2 separate regions of the Homo sapiens genome follow, and region 1 is linked to region 2. The links come from fine-mapping of genetic effects on gene expression. A gene starts in region 2. The other region holds a variant in brackets. All regions are shown on one strand. Distances are between the middles of the regions. Region 1 overlaps CNOT10 (CCR4-NOT transcription complex subunit 10). Region 2 holds the start of CNOT10 (CCR4-NOT transcription complex subunit 10).

Region 1 (15,650 bases), 85 kb after region 2:
CCTGGGCGGCAACAAGAGCAAAACTCCATCTCCAAAAAAAAAACCAGCCTGACCAACATGGTGAAACCCCGTCTCTACTAAAAATACAAAAACTAGCCAGGGATGGTGGCACATGCCTGTAATCCCAGCTACTCAGGAGGCTGAGGCAGGAGAATCGCTTGAATCCAGGAGGCGGAGGTTGCAGTGAGCCGAGATCATGCCCCTGCACTCCAGCCTGGGCAACAGAGCGAGGCTCCATCTCAAAAAAAAAAAAAAGAAAAGAAAAGAAAATATGCCCTCTACCTTCTGAGCCCGAGGAGAAAAGAAAGAAAATATGCTCTGTTGTTCTGCCCCTCAGATTTATTTTCGTGTTTTTGTAGGATCAGACAAAGGTGAAAATGAAGCAATGGAATCCTGTAAGTAAGAAGTTTTGTGATACTTAAGTAGCCTGGCCTGCATCCCAAAAATTTAGATTCTAAATCTTCTGTGTTCGTTTTTCTGCCTGAGGAATACTGCTGTGCCAAGTGGCTCCTCAAGGCGATAGATTGGGTTGCTTCCTTGCTGTTGGCACGGCCTCTTCACCAGTGTCTACACTCTTTTTCCCCAGCTGGTAAGCGGGCCCCTCAGTGCTACCCCAGTTCCGTCAACTCTGCCAGGACTGTGATGCTGTTCAACCTTGGCAGCGCTTACTGCCTGAGGAGCGAATATGACAAAGCCCGAAAGTGTCTCCACCAGGTGAGTCCAGAGTGGGAGGAACTGAACCTTGTAAAGCAGCCAACACAAGTTTGAGGTTTATATTTTTTGTTACTTTGTTTGAAGCATCTGATCAGTTTGTTAAATATTGGAATATCACTTTCCCAGATATAAAAATATTCTTGCAAGGTAAACAACTAATCAGCATTGTAAATGAACCTAGACACTTAAAGGAAAGTTCTTCTTGATGATTTTATTTTAAAAAAAATTTTTTTTTGCCAGGCACAGTGGCTCATGCCTCCCAGCACTTTGGGAGGCCGAGGCAGGCGGATCATGAGGTCAGGAGTTTGAGACCAGCCTGGCCAATATGGTGAAACCCCATCTCTACTAAAAATACAAAAATTAGCCAGGTTGGTGGCACGCACCTGTAGTCCCAGCTACTCGGGAGGCTGAAGCAGGAGAATCGCTTGAATCCGGGAGGCGGAGGTTGCAGTGAGCCAAGATTGTGCCACTGTACTCCAGCCTGGGCAACAGAGCGAGACTCCGTCTCAAAAAAAAAAAAAGATGTTTAAATTTCAAATCAGCAGAATAAAAAGCAACTTGGGGCCGGGCACAGTGGCTCACATCTGTAATCCCACACTCTGGGAGGCTGAGACAGGCAGATCACTTGAGTCCAGGGGTTTGAGACCAGCCTGGGCAACATAATGAGACCCTGTCTCTACTAAAAATACCAAAAATTAGCCAGGCATGGTGGTGCATTCCTGTAGTCCCAGATACTTAGGAGACAGAGGTAGGAGGATTACCTGAGCCTGGGAGGTTGAGGCTGTAGTCAGCCAAGATCATGCCACTGCACTCCAGCCTGGGCAACTGGAGTGAGACCCTGTCCCCCCAAAAAAAAAAGACAAAAGAAGTAAGTTGACAGTTTTAATTATTAAAATTCCAAAAGATGGAAAACTGTCTAAAAGATCACTTATATAAATAATAGTGCATCTGTACAGTTGAAGACAATGCAGCTATAAACTCTAGGTACTAAAATGGAAAGATGTCCAAGACATACTAAATGAAAACAGCAAGGTGTGAAACAGTTTCTGTATAACCCTGTATACATGCATAAAAGATCTCTGAAAGGACACACCAAGAAACTGCAAACATTAGTTGTTGGGGTGGCAGGACGAATACTACATGGCTGGAGCAGTAGAATGGGAGACTTTTCACTGTATACTGTTATGCTTTTAATTTTTTTTTTTTTTTTTTTGAGACGGAGTTTCGCTCTTGTTGCCCAGACTGGAGTGCAATGGCGCAATCTCGGCTCACTGCAACCTCCGCCTCCCGGGTTCAAACACTTCTCCTGCGTCAGCCTCCCAAGTAGCTGGGATTACAGGCATGTACCACCACGCCCGGCTAATTTTGTATTTTTAATAGAGACGGGGTTTCTCCATGTTGAGGCTGGTCTCGAACTCCTGGCCTCAGGTGATCCACCCGCCTCAGCCTCCCAAAGTGCTGGGATTACAGGTGTGAGCCACCGTGCCCAGGTGCTTTTAAATTTTGAATTGTGTAAATCTTTTTTCAAAATGTGAATTATAGGCCAGGCACGGTGGCTCATGCCTGTAATCCCAGCACTTTGGGAGGCCGAGGTGGGCGGATCATGAGGTCAGGAGATCAAGACCATCCTGGCTAACACGGTGAAACCCTGTCTCTACTAAAAATACAAAAAAATTAGCCAGGCGTGGTGGCATGTGCCTGTAGTCCCAGCTACTCGGGCGGCTGAGGCAGGAGAATGGCATGAACCCGGGAGGTGGAGCTTGCAGTGAGCCAAGATCGCGCCACTGCACTCCAGCCCGGGCAACAGAGCGGGACTCTGTCTCAAAAAAAAAAAAAAAAAGTGAATTATAAATCCACCTTTCAGAAAGCCAATACTAGAGAAACTCCATACACACTAAAGAAAGCTACTGGCAATATATAACTAAAATAAACCTCTGAATTCTACCACTGAAATGGTGCATCATGAAGCTTCAAGGAAGATTTTGATTGGATCTCTTTAGTAGGTCACCTGCCAATCCCTGGACCAATCATGGGCATTGAGCCATACCTGTAGTAGGGGACTGGGTACCACCATTGGCAGCCCCAGAGGAATCTCACAAAATTAGAAATAGTTCCTCAAAAGGACATTCATCCAGCAGATATCTGTTGAGCACTTACTTCTGAGCTAAGCCATGGGAATAAGACTGCACATAAGCAGACATACTACAATCTTGCCCTTGCTTGTAGACCTTTGCAGTTAGGAGACACCTTCCTAAAAAGGGAATTGCATGGTCAGAGGATATGCAGGATTTTAAGACTTCTGATATAGAAAGTTTGTATCAAATGGTACATTCTCCAGCAGCAGATGAGAAGGCCCACATCCCCACATGCTTGCCACAGCAACTAAAGTTGATATTAAACCTCTTCTCAGGAGATAGGGTGGCTTTCAGCCGGGCGCAGTGGCTCACACCTGTAATCCCAACACTTTGGGAGGCCGAGGCAGGCAGATCACCTGAGGTCAGGAGTTCGAGACCAGCCTTACCAACATGGAGAAATCCTATCTCTACTAAAAATGCAAAAAGTAGCTGGGCGTGGTAGCACATGCCTGTAACCCCAGATACTCGGGAGGCTGAGGCAGGATAATTGCTTGAACGCAGGAGGTGGAGGTTGTGGTGAGCCGAGATCGCGCCATTGCACTACAGCCTGGGCAACAAGAGCGAAACTCTGTCTCAAAAAAAAAAAAAAAAAAGCCTATGTGGCTTTCACATAGGTTCCTGCTTATGTGAGCAGCCTTGTTGTGCCTAGAAGTGATGATGCTTTACCATGTGAAAAATAACTACAAATTCTATTTAGTCAACTTAGTGGCATCTGGTCAGCATTTCTGATCCCAGATCAGAAAAGTTAAGTGACAGGCTGTCCAGGGTAACATGTTTGATATTATCTAGGCATTGAGTGTATGAGTTAAACCAGTAAGAGTTAAAATGTTTCACTCTTCTCAGTAACAAGGCTAGGGTGTTGAGCAGCCCCTCTCAAAGTGCCCCCAGACCTCAGTCACTGCAGCAAACAGAGCTTTTGATCTAAAGTTACAGTGTGTACAGTCCAGCTGAGGTTCTCGTACAGCAGGTGGCCATGGCTGCTGCCACGCTGGGAGAGACAGATGGGGTCAGGCCTGGTTTGGGGTCTGAAGGGGGTTTTGTTTTGGTCCCTTGGTTTTTAGGTTAATCCAATGGCTGGACCTTTGTTAATTGGGAGGCCCACCCTGCCTGGGAGGGAAGAACAGTGATGTGAAGAGTTGGAAAGGGCTCCGAGTAGATGTTTCCAAGGTTGCCTGCCCACCACTAACCATTCTGAACAGCCAGTAAGCAAAATGCCATTAAGTATCATAAAGATGTTGCCTTGAATTCTTGTATTTTAAAAAAAGCTTCAGACTGTGGTCATTGAAAAAAACAGTAAATAAAATGTGTTACTAGCCACTTGGATGGAAAACAGAGATTTTACTATCCACAAAATGGGCCGGGCACAGTGGCTCACATCTGTAATCCCAGCACTTTGGGAGGCCAAGGCGGGTGGATCATCTGAGGTGAGGAGTTCAAGACTAGCCTGGACAACATGATGAAACCCCGTCTATACTAAAAATACAAGAAATTAGCTGGGCGTGGTGGCAGGAGCCTGTAATCCCAGCTACTTGGGAGGCTGAGGCAGAAGAATCGCTTGAACCCAGGAGGCGGAGGTTGCAGTGAGCCTAGATCGTGCAATTGCACTCCAGCCTGGGCAACAAGAGCAAAACTCCGTCTCAAAAAAAAAAAATCCACAAAATGGTATAAAGACGATCTTGCCTATACAGCTTGCCTAGAAAGCTAGGCTTAGATATATAAAATCTCATTTTCTGAAAAGAGTTGTTATACCTCAGTGTTGTGGCGAGAGGAATAAAAGCCTCCCCACCTCATTCATGAGGAACTTCTTAGAAGCACATGCTCTGGGCAACATGCCCCGCTAGTCTGAGATTTCTCCTAATGCTGCCAGAAACCAACCTAGTACACGTTTCTGGTCTTCCCCAACATCTCCCACGTTCAAGCTGCTACCTTCAGTACCATTTCTCCCCATTTTCTACCTGTGAGATATCTACCCTGCAAGGACTAAAGCAGGCCTCCCTTACCCCAAAGCTCTGTTTGAAAGAAACTTCTTCCTTTCTCTCCATATTCACAGCACATTCACTGCCTTTCTCCCTGGCATTTACGTAACTGTGTTTGGATTATTGTTAGTTATTTGCATGCTTGTTTGTTATCAGGGGAAGTCCCTGTCTTATCTCCATACCCACCTCTGTTCAATAAGTATTTGTAGAAGTCTATTATCTGATTAGATTAAGAGAAGAGGCAGAGCTGTCTGGAAGCAATGAGCAACTAAAACTAGATGGGGAAGTACAAGTTGATAATAAGGTGAGGAATATTTTGGCTGTAGCTCAAAGAGGCCCAGACTGAGGAAATAAACCTGTAATTTCAGCACTTCTGTCCAGAGCAGTCCAGGCTTCCTTCTTCAGGACTGGATCAGAGAGAAACTGCTGGCCGATGCTATGGCTCTTACTCAGATCTAAGGGCAGCATGTTGCCTAAACTAGTAAATTATTTTATTGGACTAAATTGAAGTGTGTTTCAGTCCTTAAGAATGGAGACCTCAAACATGCTACGTGGTACGTTTTTTCTGTATTACTATAAGTTTGAATTATTATTCCTGACATTGACAACTTACAGTTTGTAATACTGAAGTGTTACTTAGGAAAACAAATGGGCATGCAGATTTTGATGTAATTGCAACTGTATGTGTCTGTTGTGAAAGCCACCAGCAGAATTGGATGGTTGACTGTAGTATCGGGGTGTCCAGTCACCCATCTCAAAACCCAGAGTATTACATGTCTAGCTTAATTGTTAGGTTTTAAGACAAAAGGAACTGAGGCTCATCAGAGCAGAACAACAGGTAGTCCCTAGGAAGTCACGTGGGAATGAGCTTGAATAAGTTTGTTACCTTGTTGGTTGGCAGATGTACTTGGAGTGTGTATCTTAAGCTTTTGTTTTTTCACGGGCATCTTTCTGTTTTGAGCAAAGGCGGCTTCAATGATCCATCCTAAAGAGGTGCCCCCTGAGGCCATCTTGCTGGCAGTCTACCTTGAACTGCAGAATGGTGAGTAATTCTCTCTGTTTAGGACTTTATCCCTTGAAAGAGCCTGAGATTTTTTGGTTGGGAGACAGGGTCTCACTGTGTTGCCCAGGCTGGAGTGCAGTGGTACCATCAGAGCTCACTGCAGCCTCCAAACTCCTAGGCTCAAGCAGCCTTCCCACCTCAGCCTTCCAGGTAGCTGGGACTACAGGTGCACGCCACTGAGCCCAACTAATTTTTTAAATTTTTTTTAGAGATGTGGTCTCGCTTTGTTGCCCAGGCTGCTCTCAAACTCATGGGCTCAAGCAGTCCTCCCATCTTACCCTCCCTAGTAGCTGGGATGACAAGCATAAGCCACCATGCTCAGCCAAGGCTGAGATTTTTTTTTTTTTTTTTTTTTTTTTTGAGACAGAGTCTTGCTCTGTAGCCCAGGCTGGAGTGCAGTGGCGCGATCTCGGCTCACTGCAAGTTCCGCCTCCCGGGTTCATGCCATTCTCCTGCCTCAGCCTCCTGAGTAGCTAGGACTACAGGCGCCCGCCACCACGCCCACCTAATTTTGTGTATTTTTAGTAGAGACAGGGTTTCACCGTGTTGGCCACGATGGTCTCGATCTCCTGACCTCATGATCTGCCCACCTCGGCCTCCCAAAGTGCTTGGATTACAGGCGTGAGCCACCGCACCCGGCAAGGCTGAGATTTTTAATGTCTGTTTTTTCTCTTCAGAGTCAGAAATTTGCCTTCCTTGAAGATAGGTGACCCATCAAATTCTTTTTTTTTTTTCTTTTTTGAGATGGAGTCTCGCTCTGTCACCCAGGCTGGAGTGCAGTGGCACTATCTCAGCTCACTGCAACCTCCGCCTCCCGGGTTCAAGGTTCAAGAGATTCTCCTGTCTCAGCCTCTCAAGTAGCTGGGATTACAGGCACCCACCAACATGCCTGGTTAATTTTTGTATTTTTAGTAGAGACCGGGTTCACCACGTTGGCCAAGCTGGTCTTGAACTTCTGACCTCAGGTGATCTGCCTGCCTCGGCCTCTTAAAGTGCTGGGATTATAGGCGTGAGCCAGAGCGACGACCCATCAAATTCTTCTACATAAAAATATAGTTAGGAGCTGGGCGCAGTGGCACATGCCTATAATCCCAGCACTTTGGGAGGCTGAGGTGGGCTGATCACCAGAGTTCAGGAGTTCAAGACCAGCCTGGGCAACATGGCAAAACCCCATCTCTACAAAAAATACAAAAATTAGCTGGGTGTGGTGGTGTGCGCCTGTAGTTCCAGCTACTGGGAAGGCTGAGATTGGAGGATCACTTGAGCCCTGGAGGTTGAGGCTGCAGTGAACTGAGATCATGCCAGAATAAGACCTTGTCTAAAAAAATAATAATAGGCCGGGCACAGTGGCTCACGCCTATAATCCCAGCACTTTGGGAGGCCGACACGGGTGGATCATTTGAGGTCAGGAGTTCGAAACCAGCCTAGCCAACATGGTAAAACCCCATCTTTACTGAAAATACAAAAATTAGCCAGGCGTGGTGGCGCATGCCTGTAATCCAGGTACTTAGGAGGCTGAAGCAGGAGAATCGCTTGAGCCTGGGAGGTGGGAGGTTGCAGTGAGCCGAGACACACCACTGCACTCCAATCTGGGCGACAGAGTGAAACCCTGTCTCAAATAATAATAATAATAAATACCTATATCTATCTAGATAGATAGATAGATAAATAGATAAATTGATAGATATAGTTAGGGAGTTTTTGGTATCCTACAAATACTCCTTACAAGTTAAGCTTATCTCCTTTTATCTGAGAAAATACAGAATCATAACTTCAGACACTTAATTATAATTAATCACTATTAATTAACCTTTCTCCTAGGCAGCTAAATGACTGAGAACATGAGTTAGAATGCAGTTGCTTTGAGTTATACACCATAGTATTTTGAACACATATTAACAAGTTTTACAGTAAGCCAGTTCTTGCTGAGAATTATTTATTCAAACATAAATTCAGGTCATGCCTCTAGGGCATATACGATCTCCAAGATGTATCTCACTAGAAGAAAGGCTGTTGGCTCTAAATATGAGATAGCATGAAGTAGAAAAGAGACATGAATGAGAGAGATTAGAAGGGACAGAAATAGGCCAGGTGCGGTGGCTCATGCATGTAATCCCAACACTTTGGGAGGCCGAGGCGGGCAGATCATGAGGTCAGGAGATCGAGACCATCCTGGCTAACATGGTGAAACCCTGTCTCTACTAAAAATACACAAAATTAGCTGGGCGTGTTGGCATACAGTTGTAGTTCCAGCTACTCAGCAGGCTGAGGCAGGAGAATTGCTTGAATCCGGAGGCGGAGGTTGCACTGAGCCGAGATCGTGCCACTGCACTCCAGTCTGAACGACAGAGCGAGACTCCGTCTCAAAAAAAAAAAGGGACATAAATGAAGTCACAGCCAAGCATGGAGTCCTAGCTACTCTGGAGGCTGAGGCGGGAGGATTGCTTAAGGCCAAGAGTTCAAGGCTATAGTGTGCAGTATTGCTCCTGTGAACAGTCACTGCACTCCAGCCTGGGCAATATAGTGAGACCCTGTCTCTTTTTTAAAAAATAAAAAATTTTAAAAAGGCTGGGCACAGTAGCTCATGCCCGTAATCCCAGCTACTCTGGAGGCTGAGGCAGGAGAATTGCTTGAATCTGGGAGATGGAGGTTGCAGTGAGCCGTAATCGCCCCACTGCACTCTAGCCTGGGCCACAGAACAAGACTCTGTCTCAAAAAAAACCCAATGTTCTAAGGCATAACTCCTTGTTGACCTTGGGAACTCTTACAAGGCTCCCTTTTTTTTAATAGCTGAAGAAGGGGTCTTTAGTGCCTGGCACCCAGCGGGCCTTAGCCTCCTTAAAGATGTGATTAGGGTTAGTGCATTGCCCTAGATTGTTTCATTGTTTTTTGTTTGTCTTGAGACAGGGTCTCACTTTGTCACCCAGGCTGGAATGTAGTGGCGTGATCTTGGCTCACTGCAGCCTTGACCTCCCAGGTTCAAGCAGCCCTCCTGCCTCAGCCCCCCAAGTAGCTGGGACTACAGGCATGCACCACCATGCCCAGCTAATTTTTGTATTTTTTTGTAGAGACGGGGTTTCACCATGGTACCCAAGCTGGTCTCGAACTCCTGAGCTCAGGCGATCTGCCCACCTTGGCCTCCCAAAGTACTAGGGTTACAGGCATGAACCAACCCTCCCAGATGATTGTTTCTTTTATACAGCCCACCTATAACAAGTTCTCTACCTGGGCTATACCTTAGAATCACTGGGAAGCTTTTTAAAATTCCATTGCCTGGGCCATGCCCTACATCGCTTAAATCAGAATTTCTGGGGATAAGATGGAGGCTTTATGGGATTCCAGTATACAGCCAAGGCTGCAGATGACAGCTCTTCTAGATCATCTTTTACCTCCCCAGCAGGATTTTCATGTCTTGCTTTGTGTGTGGCAGTATTGTTCTGTGCTTTGTTTTTTAACGGGAAGTGTTTTTATAGGTAATACTCAGCTGGCCTTACAGATCATCAAAAGGAATCAGCTGCTCCCTGCAGTGAAAACACACTCTGAAGTGAGAAAGAAGCCAGTGTTTCAGCCTGTCCACCCGATCCAGCCCATCCAAATGCCGGCTTTCACCACTGTGCAGAGAAAGTGATACTTCACTTTTGGAAAACTGTTACCTGAGACCCAGGGGAGAATTTACTGGCCATTTTAGTTGTATCACAGCAGAATGAATAAAAGATGGTGAAGGCTGTTAATTTTGAGTCA[A/G]TTCTACCCCTGACATTTGGCCAAAAGCTTACTTAAAATTAAGGATTTACTAAGTCATCATCAGCTGTTTTTCTTAATTTCAGCCAGACTATTAATTTTGAGCCATTATGTAATATATGCCATAGGCAATTAAAACATAATTTTATCAGAAGTCTTTTACACTTTTATTGACTATTAGATTATTTTAGCATCTGAGGTTTTGTGTTAACGTTCAAAAATTGACAAAGAACATCAGCAGTAGATGAAATAGCCAGTTCAGAAGCTGACCTGGGGGTGAAGGGGAGGGAAAGAGAGTTGACGTGTTTTATGTCTAGTTATGACTGAAAAGACCAGAAAATGTGTTGAGAAAGTAGGTTAAGAAGATACAACTGGGCCAGGCACAGTGGCTCATCCCTATAATCCCAGCACTTTGGGAGGCTGAGGTGGGCAGATCACTTGAGGTCAGGAGTTTGAGACCAGCCTGGCCAACATGGTGAAACCCCGTCTCTACTAAAAATACAAAAATTAGCCAAGCATGGTGGCACACACCTGTAGTCCCAGCTACTCAGGAGGCTGAGGCAGGAGAATCGCTTGAACCTAGGAGGTCGAGGTTGCGGTTAGCCGAGATTGCACCATTGCACTCCAGCCTGGGCGACAGAACAAGACTGCCTCAAAAAAGAAGACACAACTGATCTGTTAGGAATCATTTGCTTAAAAAGTGCAAATACAACAGGGTTCAGTGTACTGGCCTTGTTCACTCTCCTAGGTTCTGGAGTCTGCTGGCAGGCAGTTCAAGGTTCATTACTAACCCTTTTGCAAATGCAAACAAGAATTTAATAGCTTCTTCCCAAGAGACAGTTATGTGTTGTGGGATTGACGTTGACAAAATTTGCCAATAGGATGTATATACACTAACATTAAGTAGGGGGAAAAAACAATACAAGTGGGTGCAGTGGCTCACATCTGTAATCCCAATGTTTTGGGAGACCAAGGCGGGAGGATCACTTGAGGAGTTCAAGACCAGCCTGAGCAACATAGCAAGACTCTGTCTCTGAAACATTTTTAAAAGCTGGACATGGTGGCCCATGCCAGTAGTCCTAACTATTCTGGAGGCTGAGGTGGGAGGATTGTTTGAGCCTAGGAATTCAAGACTGCAGTGAGCTATGATGGCACCACTGCACTCCAGCCTAAGTGACAGAGTGAGACCCTGTCTCAAACAAACAAAAGACAATGTGGATTTGCTCTAGTAAATTGGGTGTCCCCCTAGTTAAGATGGTGTTTGGTAGATTCATCAAAGCTTGCCATTTAGGAATATCCCTTAACGTCACAATGCTTCACTTCCCTAGTTTGGAGACACATTAGCTGAATCTACATGTTACCTCAGTTTCAGAACTAGAGAGACAAGTGTGTGGATAAGTACTGATTTATCTGAAACTTTATCTGAATTATTCTTTTTTTTTTTCCTTTGAGACGGAGTCTTGCTCTGTCTCCCAGGCTGGAGTGCAGTGGCACAATCTCGGCTCACTGCAACCTCTGCCTCCTGAGTTCAAGTGATTCTCCTGCCTCACCCTCCTGAGTAGCTGGGATTTCAGGTGCCCGCCACCACGCCTGGCTAATTGTTGTATTTTTAGTGGAGATGGGGTTTCACCATGTTGGTCAGGCTGGTCTGGAACTCCTGACCTTGTGATCCACCCGCCTCAGCCTCCCAAAGTGCTAGGATTACAGGTGTGAGCCACTGCACCTGGCCGTTTTTTTTTTTTTGAGACGGAGTTTTGCTCTTGTTGCCCAGGCTGAAGTACAATGGCACGATCTCGGCTCATCGCAACCTCCGCCTCCCAGATTCAAGTGATTCTCCTGCCTCAGCCTCCAGAGTAGCTGGGATTACAGGCATGCGCCACCATGTCTGGCTAATTTTGTATTTTTAGTAGAGATGGGGGTTTCTCCACGTTAGTCAGGCTGGTCTCGAACTCCGGACCTCAGGTGATCCGCCCGCCTCAGCCTCCCAACATGCTGGGATTACAGGCGTGAGCCATCGAGCCCAGCCTATCTGAATTATTCTGTTGCTGACAGGAAGCGGAACTCAGGTAATGATATATACTAGAACTGAATATTTGTGACTGAGATAGGCATTGCCAACAGACTCAAAGAAGGGGAGAATATCCTCCTCTTTTTAAACATGGATGGATGGATGTAGGGGCTCCATTGATCGAGTGCCACATTGTAGTTGTTTTGTACACAGAGTAGATTTTTACAGGTGGACACAGAAAGCAGAGATAGCCTAGCTTCCTTGGACCTCTTGAAGCCCCTTCTAAGTAGGACCATAGGACCCGTAATCTGCACTGCTGTTGGTTTAAGTCTGCCGTCTCTGCTTTCCCATACTCCAGACCGACAGCAGTACTGTGAGACCCACTCAAATGAGCAGAATTGCTTTGCCTGGGAATTTTCTGGAGAGTGAGTCCACAGACTTCATAAATCGCTAGGAACTCACATAGTCATGGTAGTATGAAGGGGAAAAGCCCTATAATTGTACTTCAAAAAAACACATCTTTAGAGAAATCAAGAAATTAGAACTTTCTCTGCATGCTGGTTTGTTTATGGGAAAGCAGGCAATACCTAGTAAGGGTAGGGCAGGTCCTATATTAAATAAGACTATATTTGGCTGCAAGTAGCAAAAAATAGGTCTGTGACTTAAAGATTATTTTTCTCTCACTTGAGAAGGGGATATGAAGGCAGCTGCTGGCCTGGGTTCTAGTGTCCCGTGATGCCATCCAGGACTCAGCTCTGTTTTTCCATGCCACTGTCCTCAGCATTTGGGCATTTGTTTCCATAGTCACAAGATATTCCAGTATCACATCAACATTGAAGGCAAGAAAAACAGGGCAAAAACTAGCTAATCTTGATGGGAGACTATCTGGAACAAAACTTTCTTAGAAACCTCAGCAGCCTTGAGCTTAACATCTCTTTTGTCACATCATGTCATGGAGCCATCCTAAGCTGCAGGGAAGCCTGGCAAAGATGTCATAACCATGCCTGCTGCAGTTGCTGGCATAGCCCTGCACATCCTAAGGGAGGCCAATTCAGTGTTTTTCAGATTAATGTTCCAGCAGCTCAGCTTTTCCTTCCACTGCCTACTGTCAGCAGAGCCCAGCAAATTAAATATAAGTTCTTCACCTCTGTGTCTGGACTCATACTGGTTCCCATAGCCAGGAAGGCTTCTTCCCACCTATTTTTCCTGCCCCATTTTGTTAAAGCCACCTCTGCTAACTGAGGTAACTCTGTCAGAGGGGTTTGAACCAGAGCAACTCCATCTTAAATGGGAGCTGGGTAAAATAAGGCTGAAAGCTACTGGGCTGCATTCCCATGTGGTTAAGGCTTAAGGCATTCTAAGTCACAGGATGAGATAGGGCAGCACAAGATACAGGTCATAAAGACCTTGCTGATAAAACAGGTTGCAGTAAAGAAGCCAGCTAAGACCCACCAAAACCAAGATGGTGATGAGAGTGACATCCTCACTGCTACACTCCCACCAGCGCCATAACAGTTTACAAATGCCATGGCAACATTGGGAAGTTACTCTATATGGTCTAAAAAGGGGAAACATGAATAATCCACCCATTGTTTAGCACATCATCAAGAAATAACCATAAAAATGGGCAACCAGCAGCTCTCAGGGCTGTTCTGCCTGTGTAGTAGCCATTCTTTATTCCTTTACTTTCTTAATAAACTTGCTTTCACTTTACAGACTTACGCTGAAGTCTTTCTGAATTCTCTTGGAGTCTAGATCGGGACCCCTTTCTAGTAACAACCCTATCTATACAAAAAGGCTTTTGGCCATGTTTGGTGGTTTACGCCTGTCATCCCAGCACTCTGGGAGGCCAAGGCGGGTGGATCATTTGAAGTCAGGAGTTCGAGACCAACCTGGCTAATATGGCGAAATCCCCGTCTCTACTAAAATATAAAAATTAACTGGGCGTGGTGGCGGGTGCCTGTAATCCCAGCTACTCGGGAGGCTGAGGCAGGAGAAGCACTTGAACCTGGTAGATGGAGGTTCCAGTGAGCCAGGATCGTGCCACTACACTCCAGCCTGGGTGACAGGGCAAGACTCTTGTCTAAAAAAAAAAAAAAAAAAGGATTTAAATGTCACTTACTAAAGTTTTTCCTGGTTGTTCCCAGTTTCTTCCCCCTTTGTATCTTCCCTGGTAAATACAGTTTCTTCTATGGTATATGGTTTTCTGGAATTTAGCAGATATGAGAACCATAGGCATCAGTCTCAAAATATGGCAACTTATTTGCTGGGGTTTACGTTTTTAGGTTTTTGGGTTTTGTTGTTGTTGTTGTTCTATGGTCTTGCTTTGTTGCCCAGGCAAATGTTGCAGTGGCTCTATCAAGGCTCAGTGCAACCTGGACCTCCTGGGCTCAAGTGGTCCTCCCACCTCAGTCTCCCGAGTAGCTGGGACTACAGGCAAGAGCCACCATGCCCAGTTTTGTATTTTTTGTAGAAGCGGGTTTTCGCTATGTTGCCCAGGCTGATCTCAAACTCCTGAGCTCAAGCTATCCACCTGCCTCAGCCCCCCAAAGTGCTGGGATTACAGGCATCAGCCACCGTGCCTGGCCTTTGCTGGGGTTTTGAATTCTGAGAGCCATTAGGTCTATTGAAGCTCTACCACTCATTCAGCTGCATCATCTACAATACGGGACAAAATCGACCTCATGAATTTCTTCATGGACCCAGGAGGATGTTGTTGCAAGTGTCTCCCAAACCACATGGCATGAACCCTCAGAACAGCTGTAGTAGTCTTCCCTTGTGCCCTCCGGCCCTTAACAGCCTCCTGCAGAGCTCTGTTAAAGCCATGCCCTTGACTGGAACACAGGCCAGCAACCTTGCATGGCCTTGCCCAATGCACTGCCATCTGCCTGCATGTGGAAACTATGCACCCTCCGCCTCCTCTTTCATATCAGAGTGTCACCTCTCATAGTCCCTTTCTGACTAGTTTTCTGACAGCTCTGCCCTTACTCAATCTAAGTGACTTTGAGCAAATGACTTCATCTCTCTTGAGGTTTTTTGACCAGTTTGTAAAATGCTTTTCTTCAGGGCCTAGTGTGAGGATTAAAATGAGATGATGCATGCAAAGTGTGCCTGGTGGACACTTAATACAGGTGAGTTCACTTATCCCTCTTGTTACCGAAAGGGCCTGCTCAGCCCAGTCTCCCTCTGTACTTCCTTCATCTCAGTGCTACCTCTGAGTCTCTCTCATTCCTCCCTGTTCTTGGAAGCCACCTGGAGAAAAGTGACTGATGACATCATGGACCCTCTAGCCCGACTGGCTTCAAATCTTGGTTCTCTCTCTGGAACAATTTTGATATGAAACAAGTTGCTTTGCTTCTTTGTGCCTGAGTTTCTTCATCTGTAAAATGGGGATACTAATTCATAGGATTAGAATGATGTTTAAGGGTGCGGCCATTGTACCATTGCTGAATGTGCCTTGAACTCCCAAATGTTTGAAAGGGAACACCATAATTTTCACTGTATCATGTAAAAGTGATATCAAAGCAAAGATTATATAACAGCACTGAGGCTGGACAGTGGGGAATGGAGGGGGACTCCTTGAGATAAATTACCACCTCCTTCACTTTTTTTCTGAGACGGAGTCTCACTATGTTGTCCAGGCTGGCCTCAGACTCCTGGGTTCAAATGATCTTCCCACCTCAGTTTCCCTAGTAGCTGGGACTACAAGTGCAAACCACTGCACCCAGTCCTCCTTCACTTTTGATTTGCTCAACACCTAGTGGCATCCTGTGTTCTCATCCTATTCTTTCCTGCCTTGCCCAGGACCTCATCTTGTGATGACAAGAGGTACCCGGTCTCCTTGCCTCAGATTCCTTCTCCCACCCTTTCTTCCTCACCACAGCCTGTAACTTCCTATAGCACAGCTCTGGCTCCTGCCTAGGGGTTGCTTCAGGGATACCTGAAGGTCTCTTTCTGCCCTTCCTACTTAGCCTTTTTCTTTTTTTAAAGCAGAGACAATGTCTCACTATGTTGCC
Region 2 (15,650 bases):
TCAAGACACTTATAAATGATGATACCAGATCACTTGAGGTAAGGAGTTTGAGACTAGCTTGGGCAACTTGGTGAAACCCTCTCTCTACTAAAAATACAAAAATTAGCCCAGTGTGGTGGCGCACGCCTGCAATCTCAGCTACTCAGGAGGCTGAGGCATGAGAATGGCTTGAACCTGGAAAGTGGAGGTTGCAGTGAGCTGAGATCATGCCCCTGCACTCCAGCCTGGGCAACAGAGGGAGACTCCATTAAAAAAAAAAAAATCTTAAAGGGCACCCATTTTATTCAGCTAACAATGAAAAAAAGACATGCATTGACATGGTTAAATCCCCAGGCCCCTCAGTTCTTTAGTGATCTGCCTGCCTTAGCCTTAAGGTTAGAAAAAAAAAAGTCAGAAGAAGCCAAATCATGACTGTAAGGTGGATGCCTAATGATTTCCCACTGAAACTCTCAAAAAATTGCCCTGGTTTGATGAGAGGAATGAACAGGAGCATTGTTGTGGTGGAGAAAGTCTCTCTAGTAAAGCTTTCCTGTGTGGTTTTGTTTCTTTTCTTTTCAGTTTTTTTGTTTTTTGTTTTGTTTTGTTTTGGGACAGAGTCTCACTCTGTCGCCAGGCTGGAGTGCAGTGGTGTGATCTTGGCTCACTGCAATCTCTGCCGCCCTAGTTCAAGTGATTCTCCTGCCTCAACCTCCCAAGTAGCTGGGACTACAGGCACATGCCACCACACCCAGCTAATTTTTGTATTTTTTAGTAGAGACAGAGTTTCACCATGTTGGCCAGGATGGTCTTGCTCTCTTGACCTCGTGATCTGCCCACCTCAGCCTCCCAAAGTGGTGGGATTACAGGCGTGAGCCACCGCACCCGGAATTCTTTTCTTTTTTTCCTAAAACTTTGGCTAACTTTCTTAAAACACTCTCATAATAAGCAGATGTTATTATTCTTTGGCCCTCCAGAAAGTCAACAAGCAAAATGAGTTGAACATCCCCAGTAACTGTTGCCACGATCTTTGATCTTGATTGGTGTGCTTTTGCTTTGACTGGACCCCTCCAACCTCTTGGTAGTCATTGCTTTGATTATGCTTTGTCTACAAAATTGTACTGGTAAAGCCATGTTTCATCTTCTGTTACAATTCCTAGAAGAAATGCTTAAGAATTTTGATCCCATTTGTTTAAAATTTCCATTGAAACCTTTGCTTGTCTACAGTTGATCAGGGTGCAACTGTTTGAGTAACTATTTAATGGAAATTTTGCTCAACTTTAATTTTTTAGTCAGACTTGTGTAAGCTGAACCAATTGAGATGTCTATGGTATTGGCTATTTTTTCTGCTGTTAATCGTCTGTCTTACTCAATTAGGGCACAAACCAAGATAGATTTTTTTCCTTGAAAATTGATGTGGATGATCTGCCACTTTGCACTTTGTCTTCAACATTGTCTCATCCCTTCTTTTTTTTTTTTTTTTTTTTTTGAGATGGAATCTCACTGTGTCACCCAGGCTGGAGTTCAGTGGCACGATCTTGGCTCACTGCGGCTTCACCTCCTGGGTTCAAGTAATCCCCCTGCCTCAGCCTCCTGAGTAGCTAAGACTACAGGCACGCCCCACCACGCCTGGCTAATTTTTGTATTTTTTCAGTAGAGTCAAGGTTTCATCATTTTAGCCAGGCTGGTCTTGAACTCCTGACCTCAAGTGATCCACCCACCTCGGCCTCCCAAAGTGTTGGAATTACAGGCATGAGCCACTGCACCTGGCCATCTCATCCCTTCTTAAAACGAGTTATGCATTTGTAAACTACTGATTTGCGGGGGGCATTCTCTTTATAAACCTTTTATAAAGGATAAATTATTTCACCATTCTTCCATCCAAGCTTTACCAGAAATGTGGTGTTTGTTCTTGCTTCAATTTTAGCAGAATTCATATTGCTCTGAAAGGGGCTCTTTTCAAACTGATGTCTTATCTTTCTTAGTGCCTCAAACTGGATCCTATTTTGACATGTTATAATAAGTTAGTATGAATTTATTTTGGTGCAAAAAGAGTTTGAAATTCATGCATAGTTTTTTCATAATACATATTTTCCATGAACTTTTTGAAGACTCCACATATACAATACATGATTATTATTATTATTGAGACAGGATATTGCTTTGTTGTCCAGGCTGGAGTGCAACCTCCAACTCCTAGGCTCAAGCAATCCTCCCACCTCAGCCTCCTGAGTAGCTGGGACGACAGGTGCCTGCCACCACACCTGGCAAATTTTTGTATTTTTTGTAGAGACAGGGTTTCGCTATGTTTCCCAGGCTGGTCTCAAACACCTAGGCTCAAGTGATCCACCTGCATCAGCTTCCCAAAGTGCTGAGATTACAGGTGTGAATCACCACACCCAACCTTACAATACATTATTATTAACTATAGTCACCATGCTATACATTGGGTTCGACTCCACCTCCTGATGGATGGGAGGAGCAGCATGTGCGTATTGGGATGGTAAGAGTTGTCAACCAAGAAGCTAGATGTAAAAGGTCACATATTGTATGATTCTCTGGAGGCAGTCTTCCACAAGCAGTAAGAATCACATATAGGCCAGGCACTGTGGCTAACACCTATAATCCCAACATTTTGGGAGGCCGAGGTGGGTGTATCCCTTGAGTCCAGGAGTTTGAGAACAGCCTGGGAAAAATGGCAAAACCCGGTCTCTACCAAAAATACAAAAAATTAGGCCAGGCGAGGTGGCTCACGCCTGTAATCCCAGCGCTTTGAGAGGCTGAGGCGGGTGGTTCACCTGATGTCAGGAGTTCGAGACCAGCCTGGCCAATGTGGTGAACTAAAAAAAGAAAAATTAGCCAAGCACGGTGGCTTGCGCCTGTAATCCCAGCTACTTGGGAGGCTGAGGCAGGAAGATTGCTTGAACCCGGGAGGTGGAGGTTGCAGTGAGCCAAGATCGCATCACTGCACTCTAGCCTGGTTGACAAGAGAGAAATTCCATCTCAAAATAAATAAATAAATAAATAAATAATAATAAAAATAAAAATAACAAAAATATAAAAAATTAGTCAGGTGTGGTGGCGTGCACCTGTAGTCCCAGCTACTTGGGAGGCTAAGGTGGGAGAATCACCTGAAACTGGGAGTTAGAGGCTGGAGTGAGCCATGATTATACCACTGCACTGCAGCCTGGGTAACAGAGTGAAACCTGTCTCAAAACACAGACACAAACAAACAAACCACATACAGTCTAAAGTACTGTGAATGGATAGTGGTATCATTATTAGCTGGAGGTAAAGTGACTCACCGTAGTTTATGACGGAGCAAAATCCTACTGAGCTTTTCCACCTCCCCACTCCTGAATTAGTTATCCATCATTGATGTCAGCCTGATTGTGAAAAAAGGGAGAGCTGCTGATACGGAAAGTAGAGGGAAGAGAGCCCAAATATCTTCAATATAATAGCAAATCCTAGAATCTAGAATGTAGTGGTTAAGATAATAGCCATTTACCAGTCTTGTGGCTTGGGAAAGTGGATTAACATCTGTGCCTCAGTTTCCCTATCTATGAAATGGGGGACAAGAACCAACATAGATGTGACCACATGTGAGAAAGTGAAAAGGGGACTAAGAAAATTAAAAAAAAAAAAACAGTTCTGTTAGTAGAATGTTCCCAACTGGACATAAACAGCACTCACAGAATATGAACAATGTTCATAGACAGTTTCACCATGATCGTGTTTTGGACAAGACAGAAACAAGGCCCTCAACAACCACACAAATGGGAAAACACCCCCTTCTTCTAATGTAAATGATCCCGCTTTTTTTTTAACCAATGACAGCTCTAGCTTGCTTTGTTCCTCCTTCTGTTTAGATAAAACCAAGACTGAATTGCTTGTTTCCTGACAGCATCCAATTCAAATTTGGCCTCCTACTTTCCCAATCCCTCTAGAATAAGCCCAAATTCTATAAGAGATTCCTCCTAATTCCTTTTCATTAAGAGGCTCCCTACTACACTTCAGGTGTGCCTTTTTATTATTTTTTATTCTTTATTTTATTTATTTATTTATTTATTTTTGAGATAGACTTTTGCTCTTGTTGGCCAGGCTGCAGTGCAATGGCACGACCTCGGCTCACTGCAACCTCTGCCTCCCGGGTTCAAACAATTCTCCTGCCTCAGCCTGCCAAGTAGCTGGGATTACAGGCACCCGCCACAACGCCCGGCTAATTTTTGTATTTTTTTTTAGTAGAGACGGGGTTTCACCATGTTGGCCAGGCTGATCTCAAACTCCTGATCTCAGGTAATCTGCCTGCCTCGGCCTCCCAAAGTGCTGGGATTACAGGCATTAGCCACCGTGCCCGGCCAGGTATGCCTTTGCCCAGCCAGGTATGCCTTTTTATGGTGGGCACATATTCATCAAAAGTCATACTAGAGTAATCATATTGGCCCTATTCAAAATAGATAAAATATCCAAATGCCCAACAATAAAATGAATACATAAATTAAGGAATATTCACATAATGTAACATTATAATATATAACAATGAGAAACAAATACAACTTCATTCAACAATGTCAATGAATCTCATACTATCGAGCAAAAGAAGCTAGACCCTAAAAAATATATTGTATAATGTATATACATTAAGTTTAAAAGCAGGTGAAGCTAATCCATAGTGTTAAATGTCAGCATAATGATTATCTTTGTGGAGAGATGGGAAGAGGCATGAGGGGAACTCCCAGATATGGGTAAAGCTCTGCCCTTTCTCTGGGTGCTAGTTATATGTATGTGTTGAGTTGATGAAAAGTCAATACACTGTACTTATGATTCATGCACTTTTCTTTGTGTATGTTAGCCTGAATTAAAAAGTTTAAGAAAAAACAAATACTTTTTTTTTTTTTTGAGACAGAGTCTCACTCTGTTGCCCAGGCTGGAGTGCAGTGGGGCAATCTTGGCTCACTGCAATCTCCGCCTCCCGGATTCAAGGGATTCTCCTGCCTGAGCCTCCCAAGTAGCTGGGATTACAGGTGCACACCACCACGCCCAGCTAATTTTTGTATTTTTAGTAGAGACGGGGTTTCACCATGTTGGCCAGGCTGGTCACAAACTCCTGACCTCAAGTGATCCACTTGCCTTGGCCTCCCAAAGTGCTGGGATTGCAGGTGTGAGCCACCACGCCCGGCCAAAAACAAATACTTTTTTAAAAGAAAGTTTAAAACAAAAGTTAAAAAAAAAGAAAAAAACAGGTACAAACCTGAAAAATCTCCCAATTAACAAAGCTGGGACAATTTTAGCAACAAAATAATGTAGTATTGGAATGTAACCATTATAAGATAAACATCCATGAGTCCATACTGATATAAATAGCTAAGTGAGGGAGAAGAGGCAAACTTCCCTTGGGGAAGATAATTTATGTACATACTCCCCACTGCAGGAGGTAGAGCTTAAATACCCCGCCTTCCCACCTTGAGTGTGGGTTGCATTTATTGACTTGGTTCCAAAGTAGTGTGGAAGGGTAGGAGGAGTAATTGCACAGTAGAGAAAACTGGCAAGCACTACCTTAGAGAGGTAATCAAGGTTAACATGATCAGTGATGTCATTTTGACAGCATGTACCCTTGATTCTATGTGATGAGAACAGCCAGTCACCTTGTGGTCTTCCTCCTAAACACCCAAAACCCCAGTCTAACCATGAGAAAAATATTGGCCAAACCCAAATTGAGGCACATTCCACCAAATATCTGAGGAGTAACTCTTCAAAACTGTCAAGGTCATCAAAAACAAGAAGAATCTGAGAAACTGCCACAGCCAAAAATAGCCTAAGACGACATAATGAATAAATGCAATATGGTGTCCTGGACAGGATCCTGGAACAACAACAAAAAAAGGACATTGAAAGAAAGCTGGTAAATGTGAATAAAATGTGTAGTTTAGTGAGTAATAGTGCGCCAATCAAACTGGTTTCTTAGATGTGATCAACGTAACATAGTAAAATAATTAAGATGTTCACAATAGGAGAAACTAGGTGAGGAGACAGGAACTCTAGGTGTCATCTTTGCAACTTTTCTGCACAACTACAACTATTCTAAAATAAAAGGCGTTTCTTTTTAAACGGGAATCCTCAACAGCGCCTCTCTCATGGGGTTGCAAGAAATCAATGAGATAGTACAGACCAAGTGCAGGGCTCAGTGCTTAGCACATAAATGTCAGATGTGGTTATTGTAATATTATGTAACATTGAGGGACAAAAGCTCTGACACCTCGGTGTTTTAATTAGAGTAAGCAAAGGACAGACGCGCGTACGTCCCACCGCGTCAGCCCTGTGAACATCCAGAGGTTCCAGCCAGAGTACGTCCGGCCGGAGGCGGGGCGCGGAGGGGACGTCGGCGTGGGGCGGGGCCAGTAGCAGTTCCCACGCCGGCGCTCCAGGCGCGGCAGGCTGCCGCCCCCGGAAGTAGTGGGTACCGGGACGCCGTGAGGCGGAAGCTGTGTATGGCGGGAGGCTGTGGCGGTCCCTTGGTGGGGAAGCTGTTGCTGTTGCTAGACGACGGGAACTAGCTCTCGTCACTTCCTCAGCCCGCCGTCTGCCCACTCCTCTAGCCGGAACCTGGGGGCCCGGAGCCGGGGTAGGCACAGAGTTGTCCTCGGAGGTCCAGGACAGCGGCCAGCCCGGCGGCGGGAGTCAGGGCCACGCCACCTGCAGGGAAGAACCCGAGTCGAAGCGGGAAGATGGCTGCAGACAAGCCTGCAGGTAGGGCGCCAATGTCCCGAGCGACGAGACGGCGGGACGTGCGGGGCCGGGCGGACCCTGAACTCGGAGGCGGCGGGGCCCGGGGTGGGGACTCCAGGGCGACTTGAATTTGGGCGTGCATTTCTTTACCCCATCCTCTGTCTCGGCTGTCGCTAACATGAGTCTTCGGGCCCCGGGTCCAATAGTTGTTTTACTCAAGTGCAGTATTTGAAGTCGCCACTGGCCGCCTTTGCCCTGCTCTTCAGAATAACTCCGGCCCAAAAAGCTTAAATGTATTTTGCCGCTTCGCAGAATTTTCCGCTTCTTCGTGGGAAAAGCAGACAAGAGAAAGTCACCCTGGAGCACACATCTGCCTATAATATCGCGTGGCTGAGGCTGGGATTCACCTGGGCTGTTTTGACCACATGTGGCTTCCTCTGGTCATTGACTCCTGTGAAATTAACTTTGTAAAAACCACTTTTTTTTTTCTTGATAGAGACGGGCGGGGGTCTCGCTATGGTGCCCAGGCTGATCTCGAACTTCTGGGCCCAAGCGATCCTTCCGCCTTGGCCTCTCAAAGTAAACCACTTATTTAAAAAGGCATAAAATCCTATTGTCTCTCTACAGTCTGTGCTCCTAAAATCTTGCATTTGGTACTTAATTGCTCTAGTTCCTCGAAATTACTTAATCTCAATGGTTTTCTTTATGGATTATTGCTCCCATTCCTAGAATCTTCCACATTAAGGAATATAAAATTATTTCCTGACCTTGTCCGGAATGTTTCCCGCAAGAAATTCATATTCTTTGTGGCATCCAGGTTTTATTGGAAAGAACTTAAGTGACAGGATTTAAAAGTGATGGAACTTAAAATTTTTACAGTGAATTTAATTTAAAATTAAAGAAAAACTCAGTGTGCTGTGGATTTTAGTAGGTTCTGGTCACAATAACTGACAAATGAACTTCACTTGGAAATTAAGCCAATTCTATTTTAGGTACAGAGGAATAAAAATCATTAGAGGATCTCTTCAATAATCTAAGAAGAAAAACAACAGAACAAAGGCCTTGAGAGGGTATAAGGAATGTGCTGTGAAATTTTGGATAGGTTGTTCAGGGAAGGCCTCTGGTGAGATGATATTTGAGCAGAGATATGTAAGAAGTGAGGGAATGAGCCATAAGAAATGAGGAAAGGTGGATGAGGGAGAGACTATTAGACAGGAAAACGGCATGGCCTGTCCAAGGCTGGACCAGGGGACCAACATCTTCCTCCTTATTTTAGAATAGTGTCTGTGTTCCCCACATTTACCATTCCTACTTGCTCATACCATTGCGCTTGCCCGAAATCACCCTTTTAGACCTAAAGCCCATCCAGTTTTCAAATCCTCAGTCATAAAGCCTTCTACTTGTTCATTTATTCATTCGCAAAGATTGAGTGTTGAATAATGGATATGACACACTCCCTGCCTTTGAAGACCTGCTGTTCAGTCTGTTGGAGGAGACAGGCATATCCTAGCTGCACTCCTGTTTGGTAAGAGCTGTGTAATGTGTGTAGTTGAAGAATAAGGTCCACAGTGATTAGGGGACTGTTTTTTTCATTGGTTTAAGTTTATAGGCCATATTGAAGGAAACTTCCTGCTTTGATATAAGGTTAAATTTGAATAAAATAGATGAGTGTTTAGTGTAGCTCCTTTGAATCTCTGCTCATCTCCATCTCATCTGCTGTGTTTCTGGCCTTTATCTTTTAATATGATCTATGTCGCATTGAGTAGTCTTCTCACTGGTGTTTGTCTCTTGTCTCTTCCTATCCCATCCATTTTCCTCACTGTCGCCCCCCGCTTTTTTTATGTCCTAAGACATTCATTGAATCCTGTCATTCCCCTTCCTATAAAGTTTCTAAGACTGTACATGCTTTGGGCATCAAGTCATCATTCTTTTTATTTAATTTTTATTGTATTTTCTTTCTCCTTTTAAGTCCTCACGGTTTTTTTTTTTTGTTTTTTTTTTTTTTTTTGAGACGGAGTCTCGCTCTGTCACCCAGGCTGGAGTGCAGTGGTGCGATATCGGCTCATTGCAAGCTCCGCCTCCCGGGTTCACGCCATTCTCCTGCCTCAGCCACCCGAGTAGCTGGGACTACAGGCGCCCGCCACCACGCCCTGCTAATTTTTTTGTATTTTTTAGTAGAGACAGGGTTTCACCATGTTAGCCAGGATGGTCTCCATTTCCTGACCTTGTGATCCGCCTGCCTCGCCCTCCCAAAGTGCTGGGATTACAGGCGTGAGCCACCGCGCCCTGCCGTCCTCACTCTAATGTGGTTTGTGAGCATCTTCAAAATCTATTTCCAGCTGGATTTCTGTATCAACCCACCCAGCTCTTCACATCATAAATTACTGTTGCAAAGCATTGTGTTTTTTGAGCTTTTGAGCCGTAGTGTCCTTTCTCTTCTCCGTCTGGTGAACACTATTCATTCAGTCTATCTTACATGCTGCTTCCTCTCTGAGCTCACGAGGTCAGGATATTTGTCACGGAGGGTCTTGTGTGTGTGTTCTTCATCAGGTAAGAAAAAAGGGTCATGAAAGGACTTAAGGTGAGTGATCTGATCACACTGACTGTTGTAGGTGGTGGATTTAAATGAAGTAAGACAGGAAGCCTAGAGACCACCTAAGATGAGTTAATGTTGTGATATTAATTTATTCAGTAAATATTCACCAATGGCCTGTTTTGCCAGGTACTACTTTAGGAACTGGGCAGGAACAAAACAAAGTCTCTGTTCTGGAGCTTATTTACTATGAAGGACAGATAAGCATGTAAATAAAATGAAAAATAAGATGATTTCAAGTTGTGATAGATACTCTGAAGAAGGCCAAGTGCAGTGGCTCACACCTGTAATCCCAGCATTTTGGGAGGCTGAGGGGGGTGGATCACCTGAGGTCAGGAGTTCAAAACCAGCCTGACCAACATGGTGAAACCCCATCTACTAAAAATACAAAAATTAGCCAGGCATGCTGGCGCACACCTGTAATCCCAGCTAGCTGGGAGGCTGAGGCAGGAGAATTGCTTGAACCTGGGAGGCAGAGGTTGCAGCAACCCGAGATCGCACCACTGCACTCCAGGCTGGGTGACAGAGTGAGATTCCATCTCAAAAAAAAAAATAATACTCAGAAGAAAAAAATGAGTAAGAGAGGCTGTCTGCAGTTGCTCACACCTGTAATCCTAGCACTTTGGGTGGCTGAAGTGGGAGGATTGCCTGAGGCCAGGAGTTTGAGACCAGCCTGGGCAGCATAAGTGAAACCCTGACTCTAAAAAATAAAAAGCCAGATATCATGGTGTGTGCCTATAGTCTCAGCTCCTAGGGAGGCTGAGGTGGGAGGATTGCTTGTACCTAGGAGTTCAAGGCTGCAGTGAGCTTTGATCACGCCACTGTCCAGGCAACAGGATGAGACCCTCTCTCAAAAAAATAAAATAAAAGGCCGGACGTGGTGGCTCACGCCTGTAATCCCAGCACTTTGGGAGGCCGAGGTGGCAGATCACGAGGTCAAGAGATCGAGACCATCCTGGCTAACACAGTGATACCCCGTCTCTACTAAAAATACAAAAAAATTAGCAGGGCCTGCTGGCGGGTGCCTGTGGCTCCCACCTGTAATCCCAGGACTTTGGGAGGCCGAGGTGAGTGGATCACCTGAGGACAGGAGTTTGAGACCAGGCTGGCCAACATGTTGAAACCCTGTCTTGACTAAAAATACAAAAATTAGCTGGTCGTGGTGGCAGACGCCTGTATTCCCAGCTACTCGGGAGGCTGAAGCAAGAGAATCACTTGAACCCAGGTGGCAGAGGTTGCAGTGAGCCAAGATCGTGCCATTGCCCTCCAGCCTGGGCAACAAGAGCAAAACACCATCTCAAAAAAAAAAAAAAAGAAAAAGAAAAAAAAGAATAGAGGATGACTGAAAGCCTTGTTTTTCAGATAGATTAGAGAAGGGCTTTCTTAGAGTTGACATTTAGACAGAAACCCTAAGGATAAAGAGCCAGCTGTGTTGGGAAGAATGATCCAGGTAAGAGGAGCAACAAATATGCAAATGTACAGAACCCTTGCTTGGAAAATGTCTAAAGAACATCAAGCAGACCCCTTGAATACAAGCTCCCCGAAGATAGAGACTTTTGTCTGTGTTAGTTGTGTTCTAGCTCTAGTCCCTAGAACAATATCTGACAAGAGACACTCAACACATAATTTAAGGCTGGGCATAGATGCTCACACCTGTGGGAGGCTGAGGTGGGAGAATCGCTTGAGGCCAGGAGTTCAAGACCAGCCTAGGCGACATAGCCAGACTTGTCTCCGTAAAAAATAAAAAAAAATTAGCTAGGCATGGTGGCGTGACCCTGAAGTCCTAGCTACTCCAGAGTCTGAGATGAGAGGATGGCTTGAGCCCAGGAGTTGAAGGTTGCAGTGAGCTATAATTGTGCCACTGTACTGTAGCCTGGGTGACAGTGCGACCCTGTCTCAAACAGAAAACAAAAAAGCCAATACACATAATTTATAGCATAGGGAGCAAAGGCAGCATGGCAAGAGATAAAGTCACAGTTGTATCAGGAGTTGGTGTATGTTGGGCGTTACAGGCCATGGAGGGAGTTTGAATTCATTTTAACTAATGGGAAGAGAGTGGAAGTTTTCAATAAGGGCATGATGGTGTGATCTGATTTATATTTAACTGATCCAGGTAAGGAATGATAAGAGTAGGGGCTTTGAAATCAGATAGTTTAGGTTCATCCTAGCTGTACTACTTGGTATTTGTGGGAAATTGGGCAAATTTCAAGAAGTCTTTTTTTTAAGCTTCAGCTTTCCTGCGTGTAGAATGAGAACGATGAAAGTATCTACCTCACAGGTATGGTAACAGGTTAAATGATATAATCTCAGGCTCTGAGTTTTTTGGTTTTTTTGTTTTGTTTTGTTTTGAGACAGGGTCTCACTCTTTCACCCATGTTGGTGTGCAGTGGCACCATCATAGCTCACTGCAGCCATGAACTCCTGGGCTTAAGCAATCCTCTTGCCTTAGCCTCTTGAGTAGTTAGGACTACGGGTGTGTACTACTGTATCCAGATAATTTTTTTTTTTTTGAGACAGAGTCTCGCTCTGTTGCCCAGGCTGGAGTGCAGTGGTGCGATCTTGGCTCACTGCAAGCTCCGCCTCCCGGGTTCACACCATTCTCCTGCCTCAGCCTCCCAAGTGGCTAGGACTACAGGTGCATGCCACCATGCCCGGCTAGTTTTTTTGTATTTTTAGTAGAGAAGGGGTTTCACCATGTTGGCCAGGCTGGTCTCTAACTCCTGACCTCATGATCCGCCCGCCTCGGCCTCCCAAAGTGCTGGGATTACAGGCATGAGCCACCGCGCCCAGACTTATTTGGTATTTTTTCAACTTTTTATTATGAATGATTTCAAACACCTAAAAAATTTAAAAAATAAAATGAATATCTATATATCTACCCCCTAGTTCATTCAGCAATTGTTATATTTTACCATATTTGCTTCCTCTATCACTAGCTATGACTTTTTTTTTTTTTTTTGAGATGGAGTCTCACTCTGTTGCCCAGGCTGGACTGCAGTGGTACGATCTTTGCTCATTGCAACCTCCATCTCCCGAGTTCAAGCGATTCTCTTGCCTCAGCCTCCCGAGTAGCTGGGCTTGCAGGCACACGCTACCACAGCCAGCTTTTTTTTTTTTTTTTTTTTGAGATGGAATCTCACTCTGTTGCCCAGGCTGGAGTGCAGTGGTGCAATCTCGGCTCAGTGCAACCTCTGTCTCCTGGGTTCAAGTGATTCTCCTGCCTCAGCCTCCTGTGTAGCTGGGACTACAGGTGTGTGCCACCATGCCTGGCTAATTTTTTGTATTTTTAGTAGAGACGGGGTTTCACTGTGTTAGCCAGGATGGTCTCGATCTTCTGACCTCATGATCCACCCACCTCGACCTCCCAAAGTGCTGGGATTAACAGACGTGAGCCACTGTGCCTGGCCATGCCCAGCTAACTTTTGTATTTTTAGTAGAGACGTGGTTTGACCATGTTGGCCCGGCTGGTCTTGAACTCCTGAGCTTAAGTGATCTGCCCGCCTCGGCCTCCCAAAGTGCCGATGTGAGCCAACACACCTGGCTCTAGCTATGACTTTTAATGTTGAATCATTTCAAAATAGGTTATAAACATCATAACACTTCATCTCTAAATATTTCAACATGCGTTTCTTAAAAATAGGGACATTCACCTATGTAACCATGATGCCATTGTCATAGTTTAGACAATTCATGTTTTAATATATTAAAAATTTCCTGCCAGCCAGGCATGGCGCCTCACGCCTGTAATCCCAGCACTTTGGGAGTCTGAGGTGGGAGGATCAGTTGAGTTCAGGAGTTAGAGACCAGCGTAGGTAACATGGTGAAACCCTGTCTCTACCAAAAATGTAAAAAATTAGTGGTGGCGCATGCCTGTAGTCCCACCTACAAGGGAGGGTGAGGTGGGAGGATCATTTGAGCCTGGGAGGCAGAGGTTGCAGTGAGCCAAGATAAACACCACTGCACTCCAACCTGGGTGACTGAGTGAGACCCTGTCACCAAAAAAAAAAAAAAAAAGCCAATTTCCCGCCAGGCATGGTGGTTCATACCTATAAATCCTAGCACTTTGGGAGGCCGAGGTGGGTGGATTGCTTGAACCTAGGAGTTCAAGTCCAGCCTGGGCACCATGGTAAAACCCTGTCTCTACAAAAAATACAGAAAGTTAGCTGGGTGTGGTGGCATGTGCCTGTAGTCCCAGCTATGGCTATATTTTAAAAATTTATTTGTAGGCACAGGGTCCCAATATATTGCCCAGGCTGGTCTCAAACTCTTGGGCTGAAGGAATCCTCCCAGCTTGGTCTCTCAAAGTGCTGGGATTACAGGTGTAAGCCACTGCACCCAGCTTTATCTCCTGTATTTTCTTAAACTCTAACTTATTTCTACAGGCTTGATTAGATATAGGTTCAACATATTTTTGAGAAACTTTGTAGGTGATGTTATATACTTTATTTTCTGTATAAAGTACATAATGTCAGGTTATCCAGTATTAGTGATGCTAAATTTGATCAATTTGAGGTGCTGACAGGAACATCTTTTTCCATTTTCAGTTAGAGGTAATTTATGGAGTAATTGGCATTTCGTAAATATCCACTGTTGTTGATTCTTTCCTCAATCAGTTGTATTATTGAGGGTTACAAAATGATTTTTACCTAGTTCTATTGTAGTTTCTACCTTTGTTAGTGAATATTCTTCTTTAAAGAGTAGCTCTCCTGGGCTGGGTACAGTGACTCATGCCTGTAATCCCAGCACTTTGGGAGGCCAAGGTAGGCAGATCGCTTGAGCCCAGGAGTTCAAGAGCAGCCTGGGCAACATGAGAGCCTGTCTCTACGAAAAGATTGAAAAAACTTAGTTGGTGTGCTGCTGCGTGCCTGTAGTCCCAGCTACTTGGGAGGCTGAGGTAGGAGGTCACTGGAGCCCAGGAAGTCGAAGCTACAGTGAGCCGTGATCACAGCACCGCACTCTAGCCTGGGCTACAAAGTGAGACCCTGTCTCAGAAACAACAACAAAAAAGAATAGCTTTCCCATATTGACTGTTAGTCTTCCCAGAAAGCCATGTTAAATGCTAAAAGCTTAATTCATTATTTTCAATTACCAGTTTTCAGAACAAGGAGTTGATGTGGTAGTGACCTATGTTTGATATTTAAAGTGGTTTTTTTTCTTTTTTAAATTTAATTAATTTTTTTGAGGCAGGCTTTCACTCTGTTGCCCAGGCTGGAGTACAGGGGCATGATCTTGGCTCACCGCAGCCTCGACCTCCCGGATTCAAGTGATCCTCCCACCCCAACCTCCCAAGTAGCTGGGACTACAAGTACATGCCACCACACCTGGCCAGTTTTTCTGTTTTTCTGTAGAGACAGGGTTTTGCCATGTATCCCGGGCTGGTCTCAAACTCCTGGACTCAAGCAAGCCTCCTGCCTTGACTGCCCAAATTGCTGGGATTACAGGCGTGAGTAAGTGTTTTTAATATTAGAATTTAGAGTAATATATTGGTCTTTTTTTTTTTTTTTCCAGACAGGGTCTCACTCTGTCACCCAGGCTGGAGTGCAGTGGCATGAACACTGCTCACTGCATCCTTGACTTCCCAGGCTCAAGCGATCCTCCCACCTCAGCCTCCCAAGTAGCTGGGACTATAGGCATGCGCCACCACGCCTGGCTAACTTTTGTATTTTTTGTAGAGATGAGGTTTCGTCATGTTGCCCAGGCTAGTCTTGAACTCTTGAGCTCAAGCCATCCTCCCACCTTGACCTCCCAAAGTGCTGGGATTACAGGTGTGAGCCACCATGCCCGGCACTTATATTAGTCTTATGATTTCAATTTAAAATGTATAATTGACTGAATATTGATTTATACTTGTGAATTTAAATTGAAACCTTATTGCAGTTATTTTATTTTGTGGACATTAGAGAGTACCTAAGAGTCACTATAAGTTTAATTTTTTAGGTATGTAAGTTATTCTCAGGAAATTTTTTTTTCTTGACACATGTTAAAATACAAAAATTTTGTCTTTTTAAGTCTAGCAATTATACTTAAAATTGAATATATTGTTGGGGTTTGGTGGGGGGGTTGCAATAGTTCTCACTTGATAAATTTTTTTTTTTTTTAATTTAAAAAAAGTGTTTGGTACTCTACACTTTCAGAGAAACTTCTCCAGTAACAAACTGTAGAAATGATCCCTGAAAGTGTAGTCTTGGTAAAATTTTTTAAGTAGTTAACATTTTATGTTTGAAGATGTTATGTTGAAGGTGAACTTTGAAATGAGTTTAGACATTCATCACAGGCCTTTAAAATTAGACCTCCAAGTAGAATAAGTTGTCTAAGTTCGGTGTAAAAATTTGAGTAAAATCTAGGCTTTTTGAAT

Evidence for each region.
Region 1: its variant is fine-mapped to the expression of CNOT10 in whole blood (TOPMed, PIP 0.93).

What each region holds. Positions count from the first base shown.
Region 1 is chr3:32,764,096-32,779,745 of GRCh38, forward strand. CNOT10 (CCR4-NOT transcription complex subunit 10) reads left to right here. Exons shown (of 19, transcript NM_015442.3): 16 at 360-395; 17 at 587-714; 18 at 5,792-5,867; 19 at 9,362-9,780. The coding sequence ends at 9,516. Among named protein-coding and RNA genes, the nearest start is that of CNOT10-AS1, 34 kb to the left of the region's middle. RefSeq lists a silencer at 10,202-10,496. The variant A/G (reference allele first, on the strand shown) is at 9,630.
Region 2 is chr3:32,678,760-32,694,409 of GRCh38, forward strand. It overlaps CNOT10 (CCR4-NOT transcription complex subunit 10), which reads left to right and starts at 6,429. Exons shown (of 19, transcript NM_015442.3): 1 at 6,429-6,723. The coding sequence starts at 6,702. It also overlaps the pseudogene LOC124905595. RefSeq lists a silencer at 6,230-6,539.